2 separate regions of the Homo sapiens genome follow, and region 2 is linked to region 1. Evidence: fine-mapped expression QTL. Tissue or cell type: thyroid. Region 1 holds a variant in brackets; the other region holds the start of a gene. All regions are shown on one strand. Distances are from middle to middle. Region 1 overlaps CPNE4 (copine 4). Region 2 holds the start of CPNE4 (copine 4).

Region 1 (8,341 bases):
TCACTTCAAACTACACTACAAGCATACAGTAACCAAAACAGCATGGTAATGGTACCAAAACACATATATAGACCAACGGAACAGAACAGCGGCCTCAGAAATAACACCACACATCTACAACCATCTGATCTTTGACAAACCTGACAAAAACAAGCAATGGGCAAATGATTCCCTATTTAATAAATGGTATTGGGAAAACTGGCTAGTGATATTCAGAAAACTGAAACTGGACCCCTTCCTTACACCTTATACAAAAATTAACTCATAATGGATTAATGACTTAAATATAAAACCTAAAACCATAAAAACCCTAGAAGATATCCTAGGCACTACCATTCAAGACATAGGCATGGGCAAAGACTTCATGACTAAAACACCAAAAGCAATTACAACAAAGGCCAAAATTGACAAATGGGATCTAACTAAACTAAAGAGCTTCTGCACAGCAAAAGAAACTGTCATCACAGTGAACATGCAACCTACAGAATGGGAGAAAATGTTTGCAATCTCTCCATCTGACAAAGGTCTAATATCCAGAATCTATGAGGAACTTAAACAAATTTACAAGAAAGAAACAATCCCATCGAAAGTGGGCAAAGGATATGAACAGACACTTCTTTAAAAGAAGACATTTATGCGACCAACAAACATTTGAAAAAAAGCTCATCATCACTGGTCATTAGAGCAATGCAAATCAAAACCACAATGACATACCATCTCATGCCAGTTAGAATGGCAATCATTAAAAAGTCAGGAAACAACAGCTGCTGGAGAGGATGTGGAGAAATAGGAACACTTTTTTACACTGTTGGTGGGAGTGTAAATTAGTTCAACCATTGTGGAAGACAGTGTGGCAATTCCTCCAGGATCTAGAACCAGAAATAGCATTTCACCCAGCAATCCAATTACTGGGTATATACCCAAAGGATTATAAATCATTCCACTATAAAGAACATGCACACATATGTTTATTGCAGCACTATTCACAATAGCAAATACTTGGAGCCAACCCAAATGCCCATCGATGATAGACTGGATAAAGAAAATGTGGCACATATACACCATGGAATACTATGATGCCATAAAAAAGTATGAGTTCATATCCTTTGCAGGGACATGGATGAAGCTTGAAACCACAATTCTCAGCAAACTAACACAGGAACAGGAAACCAAACACTGCATGTTCTCACTCATAAGTGGGAGTTGAACAATGAGAACACATGGACACAGGAAGGGGAACATCACACACCAGGGCCTGTCAGGGAGTTGGGGGCAAGGGGAGGGAGAGCATTAGGGCAAATACCTAATGCATGCGGGTCTTAAAACCTAGCTGACGGGTTGATGGGTGCAGCAAACCACCATGGCACATGTATACCTATGTAACAAACCTGCATGTTCTGCACATGTATCCCAGAACTTAAAATATTAAAAAAAAAAGTAATGGCAAAAACTACAATTACTTTTGCACCAATCTAATAAAACACCTTGTTCAAGCTTAAGAGATGCATATGTATTAATCTGTAAGTAGGCTCTTTAAGTATATGTAAGCCTTTTGTAAAGGATATTTGTCTCTTAATTTTTAGCATATAATAAACTCTCAAGGACACTTGAGGCTGTTTTCTGATTTTTTTTCTTTCTTCTCACTGACTAAGAACAGTGCTCTCAACACAGTGGAGACTCGGTAACTTACCAACCATCTTGGTGCACTTCAGAGCACAGGTCTAAGGGGCAGCAGGGTGCTTTATAGATTAAAGTGACTCCAAAATACAAATAAAATTATTAAATTCTCTTCACTGTCCTCTCTAGTTCCTAAATGACATGTATATGCTTGGTGAGCATCATGTCAAATAAAACAAAACAAAACAAAAGCATGCACTTTGAAATCAGACCTAAGGACCTCAGTTCCAGGCTCTCCTCCTCAATTACCAGCTGTGTAACCACAGACAAGGTGCTTGACCTCTGTAGGCCTGTCTTCTACCTATATAATGGATTTTGTCAGAATTGAATGAGACATGCCTAGCAAAGTGTCTGCTCCATAACAGATGCTTGTGTTCATAATTGGTGCTGTTTACGAAGGATTTCCAGCTCTGTCCTCTTCCAGTCAAACTTCCCTGCCCTCTGAAATTTGGGTATAGAGCCATATGACTTGCTTTGGCCAGTGAAATGGAAATACGAGTCATCTGTTTCACTTTGAGAATCAGTATATGAGCTGCCATTTCCCTTTTCTAATGCTCTAGAGATAGTGGAATCACATGTTGAGATGAAGCTTCACTTATCTGTGTCTCTGCATAACTTCAGTGAGTGAAGACACACCAACCCCCACACAGATACCAACCTAACTTTGACCTGTAGCCAAAGCAAGACATGAGCTTTTCTTGTACAAGTCACTGAGATTTGGAGCTTATTTGTTACAGTGATATAATCCAGTGTATGCTGACCAATACAGTGCTTAATAAATATTAGCTCTTTTTCCCCATTAAGTCTCATTAGCTGCACATTTCCCTCTTGCATTTTTTTCTTAGAAATTGGTCTAATCCCAAAGTTTGTTCTGACATGAATGAGTTTGTTTCCTTGATGGGGCATTTGGGCAAGAAGCATATAATTTATATAGTTTTTTTAAATTAAACTTTTATTTAAAGGCAATTTAAGGGGATGGGGTTTATAATCTTTCCTTATGCTGCACTTTCTAGGTCCTCTAGAGCTACTGCTTTTTATCACTTTTTCCACTTCCATATATCAAAATACCTCCAGAGTTAAACAGCTTCACATTAGATTTCATGATCTAGCTAGATCACTTATCATAGAAATGGAAGGTTAAAGTTGTATTGTGAATATATGTATGTGTAGGGGTTAGTGGAGGATTGTTGTTACTTCCCATTATTAATGTAGATATAGAATGAACGGATCATCAATCTGAGAGGGTAGCAGCATTTCCCAATTATCTGTTGCTGCCTAACAAACTGCCCCAAAACGTAGTGGGTTAAAACAAAAACCATTTAATTTTATCTCATAATTTTTGTAGGCCAGGAATTTGAGAAGGATCAATTCTCAGATCACTAGATCATCTGCTAGATGATTCTTCTGTTCCATATGGCATAGATGAGGTCACTCAGCGGTGTTCATCTGGCAGCTAGAAAGATCTAAAGAGTCCAAGATGGTTACAGTCACATGTCTGACGCCGTGGGGACAACATCTAGAAGGCAGAGCTCAGCTGGGTCTGTTAACTGGAGTGCTGACACGGTAGTTTCAGGGTAGTTAGATTTCTTACAGGGTGGGTCAAAGGTTAAAGTTCCCAGAGAGAATGTTCTAACACATAATATGCAAGACTTCTTATGACCTAGACTTGTAAGTCCTAGAACATCACTTCTACTGAATTTCACCAGTCAAAGAAGACCAGTAAAAGGCATCCAGCTCTCACAGAAGGAACGGTAATTCCATGTCTCAATGAGAGTACCAGCAAACATTTGGAACTATCTTTTTTATACCATAGAACCACAATCTCTTCAACGCTTCTCTGATTCCCTAAGATATCATTAGGTCCAAAAACTCCAGTCACTACGTTAACATTTAACAAGCAAAAAGTAATTCCTTTACAAGTTTAAATGCCTTCCTTTTTGCCCCAGAGGGTTATCTGAACTCATTTACAAAACTTTACTGTGCTCAATATTTTTCTTGGCCCTTCAGTTGCACTCTCTACCTTTGCTATATTCCCTGGAAGTCTGGTCTCTAAGGGTACCTTGCCCTTAGGTTTCCATCTGGGGGCAGTCAATGGGGGACACTGGCAGGGAAGCAAAGACCAACAGGAGAGTGAGCAAGACCATTGCCCTTCAGCTTCCAAGTCACTGTAGTTGATCCCATTCCTGTAGCTGAGCTAAGGCCACAGCCCCAGGCAGGCATGCCCCTCTAGAATGACAGCTATTTTCTCTAGTCCCAACAATTTCCCTCTCCCCTTGTTCCTTCAGACTTACATATGATTTGCCTTTGTTTCTCTTGCATTTAGCTCAGTGTCTGGCACTTGGTAGGTGTTTAATGAATGTTTACAGAAAGAACTGTTGGATGAGTGGGTAAATGAGAGAATGGCAAAGGACATACATTTAAGAGAAGAAAATGTTCATGGCAACTGAGTGTCAGGATTAGGATTATAAAACTTCTTATCTTCTATCCTTTAGAGAGAGAGGGAAAAAAAAAGAAAAATCAACAAAAAGAAATACCTATCTTCTCAGAAGACAGTAAATGCTGTTCTTTCAGAGACGCTGAAGCCAATGAAAATACTAAGGGTTACACATCAACACTCCCTTGGCGCACAAAGGTCTCACTGGCAGCAACAAGTACATACTTCTGTATGACTGAAAGTCTATAGTTCTCTGCCCGATGAATTCCTCAAGTTCAGCTAGCCAACTTGGAGCCTCATCATAGCACT[T/TAA]ACAAGCAGAGTTTCTTTGTATGAGGTAAAGTGCAGAGAGCTAGAACAAATGCCAATCCCCAGTGATCTTTTGTCCCCTTTCAAATAAACAGATGGCATTATTGGGAACATGGAATTCTGGTCTTTCCTGTTGGAATTTCAAAAGAAAAACATCGGGCCCCCAAGGAAGCTGCTGCTCTCATGGAACAAACGGTGCCCCTCACATCCGAGAAGAATCATTCAACAGTGTCAAGGGGCTAAAAAACCCATTCCTACAGCTCACAACAGGACCTAGTTGAAGACACAAAGGGAGAAGGCCATATGGTACAGAGCTCTAAATGGCTCTATTTTTAAGGTAGCTCTGAACTGGGCCAGAAGTGATCTAGGCTCTCATCCTGCATTTGTTCTTCCCTCCCTAGCTGACCTCAGGCAAGCTACTCATGTTTCTAGGATTCTACTTCCTCCTCCATAAATGGGAAGGCTGGACCAGATGTTCCCAGTGAACTTATCTCAGATCTGCCATTCTGAAATCACAAGTCTCAAAGCGTGGCAACAAAGCACTAATACAATCGGTTTTACTCCTAATCTTTCTCTGAAGTCCCAGCTTTCTCATATATTTTTTTAAAAGAATTGGAGCATACAAAGGTCTACAACTAGCTTAAGTCTCACCTTTTATTTCATCAATGTACATACACCCCTTAACTCACCTTTTTGGCCCTAAAAATCCCAACTGGTTGTAACAGCAGAGTGGGATTTAGCATAAACTCACAGTGTGTGTGGTGACCTGGAAAAAAGTCATTTTGTACAACGGATCTGTGGTATCATAGCCATCTTAAAAGATAATGAAACCTGAGTTTAAAGGAAGAAAAGAAAGGCTGGAGATTTTCAGCTGTGTTCAAAAAGATTTTTAGGTGATCTTGAAAGAATTCCTGTCATTTCAAAGTTCTACCAAGCCTCTGTTCTATGGACTGTTTCTTCTCCCCAGAGTCCATCTATGTAGGGTGCAAAAAAAATGTCAATTTTTTCCCAAGAAGAATCAATGTAGTAATAATAATAATAGAAATATGTGATGATGATGATATCTGATATTTCTATAGCCTCTGATATGGATCAGGCATGATTCTAAGTGCCTTACATATATTGATTAACTTATTCTTCAGCACAGCTTTTAATGATAGATACTATTATCATCTCCATTGGCAAACAAGGAAGCTGAGAATCAAAAAGTTTAAGTAATTTTTTCAAGGTCTCCCAGCAGAGCTGGTGGCAGAGCTGGTATTCAAACCCAGGCAATTTGATACCAGTATTAATGTTTTCAACTCAGTATACTGAATGACTTCTCCCACATCAAAATGTATCCATTCCAAAGAAATCTGGAAAGAATGTTTTGAACAGTTATAGCAGTGGAAGAATGGGCATGAATTTTTATCTCTAAGGTCAATTTAATTTGTTTATCTACTTAACTATTACCCAGGAAGAATAGGAATAACGTCAAAAGCATTTATCTTGTCAAAAACATAATTGGTTTGCCAAGCGTAACGTTATTTTTTACCCTAAGAATAGAGCAGATTGTCAAGCCACAAAGTCTGCATTCCTGGGCTCCTTACCCTATTTGAAAAATGTTATCCCAAACTGCAGTCCCAGACCAGTTTCTTTGAATCACCATGGCAACGAGAGTCAATAGAGATACCTCCATGTAAATTTACAAGGGAAGGGCTGTCATTAAAATCCTGTTTGTGGTAGAAAGGAGGTATTTGGACAGAATCTGTCCTACCAGAGACTTTTCATTCTAAAAAGGGAAACACTCTTGCTTTTGTCAGAACTTTCTGTTCTCAGGTCTTAATACATTAGTTTCTTTTTTCTCTCCCTGGAAGAGGTTAATGAAAGTCCTTAATTTCTATTTTCCTTCACAATGGTAATTGTAAAATGTCTTGTGCACATATATGTGTACATATGTGTTATGTGCATATGCCTGCATCTATACACACATGTGCATGTATGTATATACGCATCTACAGTGAATGCACATGTATATACATACAATGTGCACATACACACACCTAATACATGCATGCACATATGTACTGACTTCCCAACTCTCCTTGTCATAGCACACTCAGCTTAAATGACTCTAACAGATGACCTGCTTGTCTGGAAGTAAATTCAGCTGAGAAAAGATACCAAGCAGCATCTACCTTCTCTGCCTGTAATGAGAAAAGGGCCAACTCAAATGTGATCTGATTCATTAAGGTTACCATTCACAGAAAAGTCTCTGCTTGCTCCTCCCTGCCTCCCATACTCTGTGAACAGGGCCAAGCCTATCTGCCCATTGTTTCTCTTGCCACCTCAGACTGTTCAAAAGGGATTAAAGAAAAAGAGATGGGCTGGGCCCAGTGGCTCACGTATGTAATCCTAGCACTTTGGGAGGCTAAGGCAGGTGGATTGCTTGAGCTCAGGAGTTCGAGACCAGCCTGGGCAACATGGCAAAACCCTGTCTCTACAAACAGTACAAAAATTAGCCCGGCGTGGTGGTGCACACCTGTAGTCCCAGCTGCTCGGGAGGCTGAGGGGGGAGGATGGCTTGAGCCTGGGAGGTGGAGGTTCCCATGAGCGGAGATTGCACCCCTGCACTCCAGGCTGGGTGACAGAGCCAGACCCTGTCTCAAAAATCAAATAAATAAATAAGTAAAGAGAAATAAAGACAGAGAACCATCAAATTTTTTTCAAAATTCGTATTATTCATTTTTAACAATGGCTTTAAAACCGTCATCAAATTGAGATTGCAGCCTCAGGGGAGTTGGCAAAACCTATCCTGCAAGAGAGAACCGCCTGTCAAATTTTAACTAGGTTCTGGGGCTTTTAAATGTCCCTTTCAACACTAAGCCTGCAAGTTAAGAGAACCCAGTCAAAGTCATGAGGAGAAACAGGAAGCGATAAGAAAGTCAGCCTCCAGGCAATATAGGACAGAAGCACAGGTTTTCATGGTGTGATAGAAAAACCCCGGTTGGCAACTTGAGTGAGTTACCTGGGCATGAGAATGACTTCTCCTAGCTGCCTAGTCCTTCTACTTTGGGAATGGGGAGGATTGGATTCATTTACCCGAGGCTTCTCCCATTGCTATCAGCCTAGGCTTCTATGAAAACATTCTAAAACTATGACAAGCCCTGAGTGCAGCTGGCTCTAACTTCTTCAGCATAGTTCACCTCATATCCAGGGAAATCTACCCACACTGCTTCTGCAGGCCCTGAATGCCTACACTGCAGAAATAAACACCGTGACATTTACACCTATGGAGGGAAATGAAAGGTGACCCTGAAAAGAATCAGGTAATTTTGTACCAGTTGCTATCCTAAGGGACTTTGTAAGGTAGGGAAATCAGAGTATAGGCTGAAGTTCTTAGCACTTCTGTTTGTGTATTCGAATCATAAACATATATATGCATGCATAGATATGTATGCCTAGTGTACGCAGAACTTATCCAACAAATATATCAGGTTATGAGGAAATGACATGCAAATAAGGATGACCATCACATCATGGCTTGTAACAGTGAAATAAACAAACATAATAAACAATAAATTAAATAATTTAAATGTCCTCTGATACGGTGCGGTAAAATAGATAACATATCCATACTATGCAGTTGTGACAAAGATTAAAGTAGACTTATGGATGCTGATATTTAAAAAAAAACTATAGGACTTTTTTTAAAACTTAATAATCTGTCAATATTGTTGGTTTTTTTTTTTTTTTTAAAGAATGCACTCTCATTCTTTTCTCCCTCCCTCAACCTCCTGTAAAACATTCTACCTTAAAGTGTTTCTAGAAGGGTCACAGTGGTATTAATGATTGTATATGGGAAAGAAGGCTAGGGTCAGAAGCCTGGGCTAGGAGTGAGACTTACTTTTGTAGGGTTTAATTTTTTTTTTAATACTTAGACCA
Region 2 (8,341 bases), 63 kb after region 1:
AAAACCTGAAAGTATATGTAGGCACTAATATGTTTTTATTATGCAGTCACAAGTTTAGGAGATATTCACTGAGTTTAACACTAATTGAGGCCTTACTATAGACTATTTCAAATAACATAGAAAAGATGATGCATCTTACCTGACCCATTTATTGTGCTTGATTTTTGGATTTACCATCAACTATCACATAAATACTTTATCCAAAAAATGGATGTGTAACCCCAACCTAAATTATTATCATAATGTGCTTCCCTGAAAAGAAAATATTATAAGATTTTGGGGACATCTTAAAAAGAATTAAAATCAGTAATCTATTCTTTGCCATCTACATTCAATCAGGAGAAAGGCAACTGTATTATTACATGTTGGAAGATCAGTTTTAATGCACCAAAGAATGGTCTTGAACTATGTGACATTTTATTTTGAATGCATTTAAATTTTTCTATTTTGATATTTTGTAAATCTAGTGTACTGGCTACTGTTGCCAAGGAAATATGACTTTGGGTTACTGAATGGATCTGCAAAGGTTTTTGTTTTTCTTTTAAAATATTAACAAGACAAAAATGGAAAGATCAAATATGGAACACAAATTTAGCCCTTTCTCTCTTCAAAGTGCACGGAATACAGATCTTCTTACACACCACTGATTAAAAAATACAAAGATGCATGAAGTGATTTTTCCCAACTAGTGTAGAGACTTTTACCCAATTAGCCAAGTTGATATCATCAGAGTACCTGTCTCATTCTTTGTTCTGGATTCAGACCACTCTGAAAATGTGTGGTATTGATTACACACAACACTGACGGCTCATCTTCAATAAGTTCATCTCTAAATGAAAAGATCCTTTCTTTATGTGGATAAAGGTAACATAATGTTCTAGGGTGTTACATTTCAAAGAATTTTCGAAGTGAAGTCAGAAGAAGGCATAGTGCAAACCTTATAAATGTGTTCAGTATTAATTCCAAAAGATTCAAATACATATGAGAATAAAGATTCCACCATTAACCCATTTTTTTTGGTCTGTGATTGTTTCTTATAGTCAGTATAACCTCAAGGTTTTAAGTCATAATAATGGGCTTGAATAATCTAATTATTTAAAAGAATCAAAGCTTTTTTCTATTGTTTTGGAATATTACATAAAACTTCTCTATAAACAGATAACATCTTTACTTCCTACTAACTGAAATGAGGTATTTTTAATTAGAAATACACAAGCAGATTAAGTATACTTTAGAACAAACACCTTTTAATTAAAACCTCTAAAACCAGAGTCCCCTTAAGACAAACCAATAATTCACCAAAATGTCATGTTGCTACTGGAGACTTGGAGATAAACAGGAAGTCTTTTAATTTCTTTTTACACTTAAGAAACAACTCAGAGCAACTATTTTCAAAGAAATATTTAGGAATTTTAGTAAAGCAACTATCTCAAACTGGGAAGTCACTGTACCGCATCTGTGCCTTCTCCCAGTCAAATATGCTGGGCCTGTGTCTGGGAGAATAAAAATAAGGTTGACCACTCACAGGAAAGGCATAAGTTTGATGGCCATGGGAGTTTTTACTTGTTAACACATAAGTAGAGGTTTGGTTCAATTATAGGCAATCTCTTCTCACACAATCATACAAAACTGCCCAGGATTAAACATCTACTATTGCTATAGACCAATATATCCTTTTATGTAATGTTAATGGAAAAGTCACCTCATTCTGATGTGTTTTGAGTTTGATCCTCTAAAACCATAAGAATCTTCCCATGAGAGATAGTTGAGAAAATGTTGGCCTTTATTAGTATGCACTATTAACACAGGTGTTCTGACTGCATTTTCCAACCCTCCCTCTATTTTATGCACCTCTCTACATGTGAGAACTTTTGACTAACTCTGAGTCCTGACCTGCCAGAGTGACTTTGTCAGTCTCTCTTTAAAAATGGGCAGGTGAATGAGTTCAGCCTAGAAGCAGCAGCTCGGTAAGGGAAATGAAAATATCAGAAGTTATCTAATCACAGCCATAGCCATGCTGAGCTTCATCTTATCTTTTGGTTAATAAAAAGAAATGGGACCTTCCGAAACTTGAAGGGCATCAAATTAAGTTTTTGCTTGCCTCTGGCTTTTTGGGGGATATGCTATGTGGTTTAACCAGCATATACTAACTACAAAAATTGACATGGATTCAAAACACCTGTGTCATAGGACGGTGGGTGTTTGTTTTTTTGTTTTGTTATAAAGCAGAAAATAAAACACAAAGGCCTTTGAGAACAGGGATTGTTAAGGGAATAGAAGAGTATGGAGAAAAGAACACTTTATTTGAAGTTAAGGTAATTGTGTACGCCTGTGTATGTGTGCGCGCGGGGGCGCGCGAATGAGCAGGATTTAGTTTCATTTAAAGATAACATATTAAAGTATCTTGGACAGCTCAAAAGTGCTGTTCAGGAAACAAAACCAAGTGAGCCAAGAAAAACCAGAACAGTGCTTTTAAAATCCCTGGCAAAGCAGCAAGAGGATGAAGAGTTGGTTTTGCATAGTTTTGAACACAGGGTGTAAAGGTGCTGAGGCATCTTTTCCCACAAGTCACTGAAATCCTGTGAGAGTGTGTGAGTGTGTGTGTGTGTCTGTGTGTGTGTGTGTGTGTGTGTAGAGGGAGAGGTTCTCAGATGTCTCTCTTGCAAAGCTTCCCAGAGCACTCTCGCTTCCCTAGCCCCCTCCCGCCTCACTCTGCTCACCTTTCCCCCCTCCACTTCCCAACCACCCACATCAAGCCCTTCATAGATTTGCGCCCCTTGGATCATCTCTGCCGCCTGTGACTTTCCCTGGAGCCTAGCAGGTTCTGGGGCTGAAAGGCAATCCGCCAAGGCGCCCTGGGGCGCCGTCAGATTTGGAACATAGAATGGGAAATAGGGCCTTAAAGCCCACCTACTCCAAGATGAAGGAGGAGCATTTTTCATCAGGGTTTAGCCTGCTCCTCACCGGATGGTAATCAGCACTCGCTTGACTTGGCGTGGACCACCTCCTAATTATCTCCATTGGATTCAGCCCTAACAGTTCTCGTGTGTCTGTGATACCACGCGGGGTCGTGATCTCCTTACTCAGCTGTGGCTTGGTTTCAGTGGTCCCTCCAGTCCCGTCCCCTGTCCCCGTCCCCCTTTCCTTCTGGCTACTTTATTCCATAGAGGAAGAAGCGCTGAAGGACTACGTTGAATCAAAGCACTTGCAAGCCTATTCATTAGTTTTTAACACTGAGAAGAGGCAACTAAAATATTATTAGAACCTCATTGTAAGAAGTGTGGGGGAGGAGGTTGAGAGGCTGAATCCAACCGCAGCCAGGTCAAGCCATTGGAAGGGACTACAATGTCCCACAGCTTTCTCACTGTCAGAGAGGAAGCTGCAACTTCAGCCAGAACTCCCTTCCCCTCCCCTTCCCCGATTTTGAAAACCGTACCCCTTCTTCCGCCTTCGGGACTTCCCTGACCTATCCCTCACCCGTGCCATGCTGTCCCCTCCCCTCCGCGGTCTTTCTCCCCAACTCCATTCGCCCCACCCCACCTGGGCGAGTTGGGTGGATGTCAGAAGGCGAGAGGTAGGGGATGGAAGTCCCTTCAGATTAAAGACGTTGCTTGCTGCTGCTTTTTAAAACAACAACAGCAATGACAAACGTGCAAAGGTGAGCGAGAACCAGTGCATCTCAAAAGTTGGTCTTGCTACGCAGCAGCTCCAACAGACTTTGCAATCACAGCGCCCCAGGAACACAGGAATGAAGAGTTGGCATTTACTTACCTGGGTGTGCCAATCTCGAAGAGTGGAGAGAGAATTCAGCCCGGGACGAGGTCTGTCCCGCCCCCAGGATGCAAAATCCGGCTTTGAAGTGGAGGTGGTTGGTGTGGTAGTTTTGTACTGATGTAAGGGGCGTCGCACCTCCTTCCCCTCTCGTCCTCCGAGGTCAGTTTAGCAACAGCGGCTGGGAAAGGTGCTGAGAGCAGAGTTCGGTCTCTCCGGAAACCCTGACTCCATTCTCGGTGATGGGGGTGGGGGAAGAGGGTGAAAATGTTGGAGATGTCAGGTCGGCTCTCAGTTAACTCGGAGAGTAAAGAGGAGGGTACTGAGAAAAGAGGGAGGGAGTGGAGTGGAGCGAGGGAGGAAGGAAAGGAGGGTGGCAGAAAGAGAAGGGGACGAGCGGGTGGCGGGGAGATGGCAGCTTCTCACAGAGAGATTTCCACCTTCTGACGAATCCCATGCACCCAGCAACCCGGCAAGAGACTGGTTCCGAAACCTCCGCGCGAGCGCCCCCTGGGGGTTGCTGACGGAGACGAGCATTGCCCCGGGAACCCGAGCTCAGGCCCCGCCCAGGCCTTGGCGGCGGCGCTCTCCGTGGTCCTGCCGCGCCCGCAGTCTGGGCTTTCTGCTCAGCTTTGTCGCTCAACTGAGCTCCTGGGGACACTTGATTTAGATCTCCAAGTGCTTGGTCTCCATCTCCACTCTAGGGTGGAGCGGTCGTATCGCGGCGCGGGTGTGGGGGGAATGGGAGTTACACTTTTTGGCACTCACCAAAGAAAACTTCTTAGATGGGTGCTTAACTGTCACCAAAAATGGTAAAGGTGTTGCTAATCTCTGGATCCTTCGTGTCTACAAAACTGTCTGGCGTATGGCAGGAGCCTGGAAATTATTTTTAGTAAGTAATGCATGAGTAAATTAATGGACAAAGAGTATTTTCTTCATCTCATGATGAGTTTCTGAATACATCTACCTCACAAATAAGATAAAGAAATACTTAGGGAGTACTTATGCTTAAAGATAGATATAAATATGCTGTCTTATGTAAGGGGTGACCACTTCCACATGTTTTAAAGCACTTTAGAGAGAAAGTATGGCCTTCCTATTTCAAACTTATTCAAATTCAGACAAATGAACTTATTCAAATACAGGGCATTGTTTCTGATTATGTCTGCTACCATAGACAAACTAGACAACTAAATTCTCTCTGCACATTGGTATTGTCAGACTCACAAATTGGACTTTGGAATTAATGAAGTAAAGTGAATGACGGTCTCTTTCTGACATTGGGATGGTATAGAGTGTGTTACATCTAACGTGGAGGGGAGATGGAAGGTCTTCCTTCTCACCCTATTAAGGGGCTATCTAACAAAGCCTCTCCAACCTGAAGGTTGGAGGAGATATTAGCCAAAATCTTTTCACTAACCATGAAGTTCTCAATTTCAAAGTCCAGAAAAGGAGAACCAATAGGGTAAGGAGGAAGACCCCCTCTTAATTGTTCTATAGAAGTAGACAGAAATATCTTTGATAAACAAAGGGACAACCTTCTGACAGAACACAAATAACATTTTTCTTCTTTCAGTCACCTCTAAAGCCTTTCTGAAATAGGATAACACTAAACATGGACCCTGGAAAGGACCTCAGGGAGCTTCTCTGTACACTGAAACTACCACAGAAATCCTTGGATTTGCTTTGATTGCAAAAACTTGGGTCACATGGCTATGCATAAGTCAATCGTTGTGACCTTTGGATATGGAATTACACTAATGGGCCAGGACTTCCACAATGTCTAGGAGCATGTGATGTCTTCTATAGCACTCCTGGAGCCAGGATGGAGCCCCACCTGATCTACACACATTGCGAGTGAGACACAGGGACAATTCTCCAAGGGATATTCAGGGTCCTCCTACCAGGAAAGGGGAGACGGATGCTAAGCAGGCAAAACCAGTGTATGACTACTAAATATGAAAATGTTAAGTCCAAAAACATTACTTCCAGGTTTTGTTAAGAGGTAGCCTCAGAGATAAACTCAAAATTTGAATTGGATTGAACTTGCAAAGATGAAGGAAGAAGAAGGAAAAGTCATTGTGCATTTCCTTGCATGTTAATTGTATCCTCTAAAATTTAATTTCTATGAAGGCAAGGGATATGTCTGTTTTGTCGTCTTGTTCATAATTATAACCCCAATGCCTAGAAAGGTGTCTACCACCTTCTACATTTATAAAATTAAAAATAATATAAATACCTTAGGGACCATTCAACATAAACTTCTTATATTACAGGTGAGAGAAAAGGAATTAAGATGTGCTGAGCATGTACTATTTCCAGGCAATCTGTTAGGCACTCTACTTACCATCCCATTTAATTTTTACAACAACCTGCCCAAGAAAGTTTTACTATATCTACAAAAATAAATCCAGGGTGTGGGCGGTTGAAATGACCAGACCAGGGAACACAACTAGTTAATGGGAGGATAGGGGTTGTTCATTGAAGCAGTCTCTAAAGGGGCAGCTAGAATAAGTGAACACATGGACCATAGAAAAGAAGTTATAGAGTCAATGCTCATAGGGAAAAAGAAAAACAACATAGTTATCTTTGGCCCTACATGTTAAAAGCATAGATACACAAACTAAACACAATGCCACAACTTGTGACAAATATGGTTTCCTTTGCCAGCAGGCTTCAGCTCCGTAATTAGAAACAAACAGTTGCCTGCATGCCAGTGCGCAGAAAACGTGCAGCTTTATGCCAGAAACTTGGAATTTTTTTCTGAAGGCATGACACTGAAGGTAAATTCAAAGAAGCTTTTTACAGGGCACATAAAGCAGAATTTACTTCCACCTCTTATATGAAATCAACAGCTCATCTGTACAAATGAAGATTTGTAACCAGCTAATAATCCATGTTTTCAATCACTGCCCCCACAGCAAGTTGCCCGCCAGCCACAGTCCCCTCAACAATTGTAACATCAAAATCCCCTTGTCTCTATCACTCACCTCCTCCCAGCTCTCCTTTTAATGGATTCTGAGCTGCTGGGTTCTACAGCCATGGTCAAATTTATCTAAAGCCAAGCCACAAAGTCACTGTGGCCCTGGTGTTCCCAAGTTGCAAAGGAAGCTTCAGCTCTGGGTAGATTCACTCGCCGGGTTTCTGTTTGATAAGATAAGAGGAGGCATCCGCTCAGTGTCTTATGCCAATATGAAAGGCATCTCACCCATCAGTGTGACAAGTGAAATCCTGGAATGAAGCCAGGGAACAAAAGGGAAGAAATGTGGATTCTTACCAATGCAGTTGATACCATTTTTTAAGGGGAGCAGATGATGAAGGGGAAAAACAGGCAGAGAGTCAGTGCCCTGCATCAAAAACCTTGGATCCTTCCCTGAATGAGTCAGGGTGAGCATTTAGTTTTGAAATGGAATTTCTGTTTCCTTTTATTTTCTTTCTTTTTTTTTTTTTTCTGTAAGAACTACTAAAGGAAACTGTTGTAAATAACAGGATATATTTTTGAGGCTGTGGATCATATAAGAACTTTGAATCTCACCCCAGGGCTATTTATAGCTCAAAAATTTGTTCTTTTTTTCTATTTCAAGTGATTTTTGAGAACTGACTGATATGTCTTCCTCTGGTGTTTCTGTATATGCCTGAGGTGTGATGTATTACTGGAAAGCAGAAAGGAACACTCTAAGAAAGCACTTTTTCTAAGATGCTAAGAGTCAAGGGAAAATGAACATACATGTTGCAAGCTGATGCAGGAATTAAATATTCCACTGTCTGTCATTCCTTTTTATGAGAACCCTATACCACCTGTGGTGCCTCTAACATTGGGTAACAACCTGTGCTACGAAAGGGCAGTTTATACTTCTGTCTACCAATAGGTGGCATCAAAATCTCTAGCTTTTCTTTCCTGTATTTTAAAAACCATAGGCAGAGGGCATTTTCTTTCTGAGATTTTACATTTTATCATGAGTGATGTTATAAAGGCCACTAAATAGCTCTGTATAATTTCAGAGCAGATTTTCCTATTGCTCTATTAATGAGGTCTCTCAGTTGTCCCTCTGAGCCTCAGTTTTCTCATTGTAAAAAGAAAGTATTTGGATTGAACTCCAGCTCCAAGATTCTGCTTTTTAACTACATAATATCTTCCCAGACACACCATTTTTCATGCCTATGATAAACCCATTAGCACTCCATTCCTCTGGGCTTAAGGAATATTAGCAAGCAAATATCCCTTGGTTGCAGAGGCTGTTATCTGCCCAGCCTATATTCATTTTTGTTTGTTTTTCCTTACTAAGAAAAACATAATTTTGTGGAGGGTAGCAACGTGTTTAGCTCCAAACCTTCATTTTCCAGCTTTTCTTGCAGATGGGGTAGTGATGTGATTAAGGTCTAGCCCTGCACTATTTATTGTGGTAGCCACTAGACACATGTATCTATTTAAATTTAAATTTATTAAAATCAAGTAAAATTAAAAGTTGATTTTGTCAGTTCCACAAGTGACATTTTAAATGCTAAACAGTCATAAGTGGCTAGTAGCTAACATCTTGGATAGTTCAGATATAGAACATTTCTATCATTG

Evidence for each region. PIP is the estimated chance that this variant, and not a neighbour inherited with it, causes the effect.
Region 2: it holds the start of CPNE4, and the variant in region 1 is fine-mapped to the expression of CPNE4 in thyroid (GTEx, PIP 0.98).

The regions. Positions count from the first base shown.
Region 1 is chr3:131,967,945-131,976,285 of GRCh38, forward strand. The region is part of intron 1 of CPNE4 (copine 4); the gene reads right to left. Among named protein-coding and RNA genes, the nearest start is that of MIR5704, 14 kb to the right of the region's middle. The variant T/TAA (reference allele first, on the strand shown) is at 4,421.
Region 2 is chr3:132,030,796-132,039,136 of GRCh38, forward strand. CPNE4 (copine 4) reads right to left here and starts at 4,219. Exons shown (of 16, transcript NM_130808.3): 1 at 3,772-4,219. RefSeq lists an enhancer at 3,799-3,968 and a silencer at 4,344-4,443.